Linked DNA regions of Homo sapiens: region 2 is linked to region 1. A link means that fine-mapping ties the variant in region 1 to the expression of a gene that starts in the linked region. Tissue or cell type: whole blood. Region 1 holds a variant in brackets; the other region holds the start of a gene. All regions are shown on one strand. Distances are between the middles of the regions.

The links. PIP is the estimated chance that this variant, and not a neighbour inherited with it, causes the effect.
Region 2: it holds the start of ENTPD4, and the variant in region 1 is fine-mapped to the expression of ENTPD4 in whole blood (TOPMed, PIP 0.98).

What each region holds. Positions count from the first base shown.
Region 1 is chr8:23,262,004-23,264,683 of GRCh38, reverse strand. No RefSeq gene overlaps it. Among named protein-coding and RNA genes, the nearest start is that of CHMP7, 20 kb to the right of the region's middle. The variant C/T (reference allele first, on the strand shown) is at 1,441.
Region 2 is chr8:23,456,275-23,458,954 of GRCh38, reverse strand. ENTPD4 (ectonucleoside triphosphate diphosphohydrolase 4) reads left to right here and starts at 1,308. Exons shown (of 13, transcript NM_004901.5): 1 at 1,308-1,398. It overlaps ENTPD4-DT (ENTPD4 divergent transcript), which reads right to left and starts at 1,184. Exons shown (of 5, transcript NR_186533.1): 1 at 966-1,184. RefSeq lists a silencer at 1,095-1,774.

The DNA of each region.
Region 1 (2,680 bases):
GGGAAGCCATATAAAAAATATGAACATACACAGAAAGGCCCAATGGTTGGCACTTAAATACTCTCTTCACTAGGGAAAGGGAGCTGGGGGGCTGTAAATGAATGGACCCAAATACCTGACAGTGGTTTGCAAATGGTTCTCTTTGGATGCTGAATGGGACTGAAGGACAAACAATAGCTTGTGGACAAGTCATGGAAGGTGAGGGGTGGTACTGCACTGTGAACTAAGGTTGTCTTATTATGCAGATACAGTCTCCCAGGTTATCTCTTGGAACCTCCCTCAGAAGAAAAGACGAAAAGTCTGTCTGGGTATGGTATCCTGGCTGTAGCTTCTTTTTCAGTCTTTTCTTGGGTGATTAATCATTCCTGGTTATTTAATGAGATTCATAGGGAGGGGGCTTTAAGACGGCTGCATTTATTTTAGAAGTGTTCTTAATCAGGTAAGGGAACTTCCAGAGAAAGAGGTCCTCCTGGTGCTTTAGAAAAGAAAGGGTTGAAAAGAAAAGAAAAAGGTCAGAGAGACAGCATGCTCCTGGTGCTTTAGAAAAGGGTCAAAAAAAAAAAAAAAAGAAAAGAAAAGAAAGGGTCACAGACACACGATGGCGGGGGAAAGCCAGAGAGAAACCTTGAAGCTGCTGCTTTAGTTCAGCTCGTCAAGTGCCACATTTTGGGCATTATTTTATGAGCCCCAACACTTGTGTGACAAAGAATTCCAAGCTGGAAGTCAACAAACTAAATTCCCCTGTGAGCTCTGTGGCCTCAGCAAGCTGCCTAAGATTTGGGTCCTCCTCTGTAAAACAGACGTTTCCCCTACCCTTCTCGTGGCTCCTTCTGGCTCTCATGTTCCGGAGTCTATAACCTTGCATTGCTTCTGTGCAGACAGAGAAAAGCAGCCACACTTTCCCCAAAGAGTAGCCACAACTACGTAAAAATGAGAAGACATGAAGACAGTTCAAAAGAAAGGAAGGTCACCAGGCTCACCCACAAGCCTCAGAGCAGGGCTTCGTTTTGATTCTTTGGGACTCAGCAGCTCTCAGTGATCTCATCTTTCTTCACAGCTCCAGCTCTTCCCTCCTCTTTTCTGATGGCCTAGATTATATTTTCAGCAGATCGAGCCAGATCCTCATGACCACTTCCCGGAGGTCTGCTCAGCCTTCGGCTGTCACTTCAGGCAGGCAGTGAGAACCGCAGTGTAACCCTTTCGTCTCTCTCACAACAGCATGTCTGACTGCAAAGCCCACCCCGGTCCCAGGACTCTGGTTACACAACCCTTTTAGGCAGGCCCAGGAGATTCCCAGGTAGCACCCTTCCCCTCACCTCCAAATACCCACTTACCCTTCTAACCACACCTCCTCTCTGCATACCATCACCGTTCCCATACTAGCAGTGATGGGGGACTCTCCAGCCACCCTCCCAGGCACGGCATCATCTCTTCACTTTG[C/T]GGTGTGGTGGTGCCGCTCTGACACCTGTCGTGAGGCAGCAAGGATTCAAGAGAAGGGAGAAGTTGGCCAGGTGCAGTGGCTCACACCTGTAATCCCAGCACTCTGAGAGGCTTAGGTGGGAGGGTCTCTTGAGGCCAGGAGTTTGAGACCTCATCTCTACTAAAATAAAGAAAATTAGCCAGGTGTGGTGGCACATCTATAGTACCAGCTCCTCGGGAGGCTGAGGTGTGAAGAATTGCTTGATCCCAGGTCGAGGCTGCAGTGACCCCTGATCTCACACTGCACTCCAGCCTGGGTGACAGAGCAAGATCCTGTCTCAAAAAAAAAAAAAACACTAAAAAAGAAAACTCTCAAGAGGAGTGAATCCCTCCATGGCGCCGACTCCTGAGGCCACTCAGCCCTGATTGTCCAGCTATGGGAATTCCATGCTGGCAGCTGTAGCCGCCACCACCAGAGTCCTGTAGATTACCCCTTCTTGTTCTCTGCTCCAAGCAGACTCAACAGCTCCTTTTAATTTCCTGTAGCACAGCAAAGAGTAAGTCTGGATCATTTAACAAGGATTCTTCAGTGGCTCAGGACAGTGAAAGAAAAAGTAACCTTAAATCAGATTAACAAGGTTCACCAGGTCCAGGCCACTTCCTTCCAGCAGAAGGAATGGAAGAGCGGTTGCCCTCTCTTCCGCAGGGCCTGTGAGCTCCAGTCCCTCGCCCTTCTCATCAGGTCCTTTAGATTCTCCCAGGGCTTTCTGAGCCGCTGCTGTCACCACCTTTTCCTGGCCAGTTCACCTCTGCCTTACCTGGAGCTGCAGACCTAGTGCTGCGGCCAGTTGTTTAGCCTATTCCTAATGCTGCCCTCAGCCTCAAAGCCCCTCTCCCTCACAGGGTGTGGCAAACACCATCCCTGGAGGAGGGGCTGAGAAATACCAGTGCCAGACTAAAATATGATACAATCACATGGGCAGAAGAAATTAGGCCACTTACAGAGCCCAGGCAATGGAAAACAGTAGCAATGGCACACTGCTAAAACCAGGGAGGCCATTCAAAGAATGAGTCCTCCCCAGGGGAGCTCAGTGAGAGCGGCCACTTGGATGGAGCAGCAGCTGCCGCAGCTTAAAGCTCACACGGTCAGGCTCTCCATATTCTCCTGTGGCCTTAAGAGAAAGAACCAAAGTGTGCAGAAGCTGGAAGCGTGGGGACGCACCAAGGAACAAGACGCTTGATAAAACCTAAAGAGGAGACG
Region 2 (2,680 bases), 190 kb before region 1:
GATAATTTCGAAGGAGACTGTCCTTAAAATCACAGTATGTCAGTGGCCAGCTTTAGCTTCTCAATGCTAGCCTTGGGTCACAGGGTTTTCTAGTGTGAAAATTATCCAAACGAGTAATTTCTTATAGCAACAGATTGTCAAAAAAAAGACACTGATGCGCAAGTCATGTGGGAGTCTGAAACATTGGTTCTGCTCTCCTCTGCCTCCAGGGGGTCTTGGCCAAGTCACTCAACCTCTCTGGGTTCCAGGCTCTTAACTGTAAAAGAAGGTGATTGGGGCTACACAGTAGAGTCCCTTTGGCTCTAACCTTCTGAGGCTTCATGGTTTCTTCCGTTAACAGTAGCTGAATCCAGGAAGAGGAGGTGACCCAGGCGGGTGCTGGACCAAGAAGGATTCTGTGTTAAGATGTAGAACTGCCAGTTCTGTCTATGCTTGTTTTACTTGATAAATGGAATGGAGTAGACGTTTCTAGGGCTCTTGTTTTTAAAAATCTTTTAAAGTGGCTGGATTGCTGGTCACTTCCTATCTCTGGGCCACAGTGCATTCACCTGTATACAAGGTGGAAGAAAGGATGGAACCCGGGATTCCCAAGGTCTCTTCCGGCTCTCAAGTGCAAAGTTCTGTGTCTTCAAAGCAGTTTATTGCTAAGCCAGAGAGCTAAGAGAGCTTAGCCTTGTACTAAGTGTAGGTCATGGGGTCAATCTCAGGAACACCCTTCGCTTTATTTCTTCTCATAACCATTGCGTGTGTTGGGGAGGGCTGGGGCAGTCTGCCTCCCCCAACATAGGCACTAACATATGCCATCGACGGGCAAGAATGAAATCCTGGCTCTACCTCTCACGAATCAGGTGGATCTCAAGAGAGACTGAATAAGTGTGAGCCTCCGTTTCCCCATCTGTGAAACAGGGAGAGTTACCGGCAAAGGTGTAAATGTCAAGAGTTGAGCAACAATGCCTAGTCCTTACCAGGTTTTCAAGCGCTATTTTCCATAACCGTTAGGAGCGCTAAGGAAAGATAAACTGCGGTGTCCTAAGTACGCTGAGGCTCGCTGACGACCAGACGAGCACCACGCCACAGTACTGGGTGCCTCCGTGCTCCCACGTCCACATTTCCCGTGCACAGCACACTGGCGTGGCCGCGCGGGTCCACGGAACAGCCCAGCGCTCGGACGCCAATCATCCCGCATCAGGCTCCGCCCCCCAGCGCTCAACGCGCCCCTCGGCGTGCGCGCTCCCGCCGCCAGCGGGCGCGCTCCGGGCGCAGGCGGTGACGTGTTGCCGGCGGGGGCCGGGCGGGGGTGCGGCTCCAGGAAAGGAGCGCGGCCTCCAGGAAGCCGGCTGGCCGTGATGCTGCCCACTGGTGGTCCCCCGCTCCCGGGGTCCCCGGCCGGCCAAGCAGGTGAGGTTGCCTTCCGAGCGTGGGTGAGGGGAGGGCGGGCGGCCGAAGGGGCCGGCGAGTGGGTTGGAGTGCGGGGGCCGGCGGCGCGGCGAGCGGGCCGCGGACGAGCCTCTCTGCCCCAGGCCCCCACAGCCGCCTGCTTAGCCCCGCGGACCGGTTCCCGCCTCCCCTGCCGCGCGGCCACATCCGAGCGCCCCGGGACCAACCCCTGTGAGCCCTGGCGGCCGGCGCGCTCCCCCAGCCCCTGGCAGGGGACACCTGGCGGTCGCGCGCCTCGGGTGACCGCTCGGGATCCCCCCCTCGAATGGGCGGAGCTTGACCGGGCAGCAGGGATGCTGCACCCGGGACCCAGCCGGCCCTGCCTGCCGCTTTAAATGATGACATTCGCTCGTCTTGTCGTTTTCGCTTTGCTTTGCTTTTGCCAGATTTCATGTTAGATTTCTTCTTGGAAAAATGGAGCTTATTGGGCAGTAAAGTGATGATGCACAGCATTGTTTCTGAACTTGAGTAATGCGCGGACCCCTTTTAAAGGAACAATTCTCTCATGGTCTAGAATGTGTCCCAGAACCCTTAGGGTGCTTCAGACCCCAGTTAGATGAACCCTAGTGCAGAGCGTTTTCAGAGAACACTTATCACGAAGGAAACTAAAGAGATCCTTTATGATTCAGGAACTTTCAGGCTAGAAGGTAAACTAGAGGTAATGGAAGAATTCTAAATTAGACACTCAAAGCCCAGGCTAATTTCGCATTGCAGTCTTTGTTGTCTCCTTTTTGTGATGAAAATACCAAATTATCCAGCTTTAGAGAGGCCTAAAAGAGTTATATTATTTGTGTTACCATATATTTGATGTTTTTGTATCAGGTTTGTTAATTCTGTTTGACATAGTAGAATTATAAAATGGAACACTAATTCGTGTAGTTGAATCGTTTATTTCTCTGTTTACCTTAACAGAGGTCTTGTAGTTGTTGCATGTTGAATCTATGGCTTATATTCTTCTACCTCTAATAGGAAATGTGTGACTGAGGCCCTTGAGGATATAGTCTAGGAAGGAGACAAAAATGAACATTTATCTAAGGATTTATATTCTCTACGTATTTACTCAGCATGTTTATTTAAAATAGACTACTCATGAATAAAGAGACGATTCCAATTGTAAGAAAACATCAGGATGTGTAACAGGTTAAATCTTGACAAAGAAACATGTTGACTTGTGCCTTGAAAGAAGTGTAGTCTTGAGAGGAGGACACGGTGGTGGCTCGGAGGAAGTGCTGTTAGTAAATGC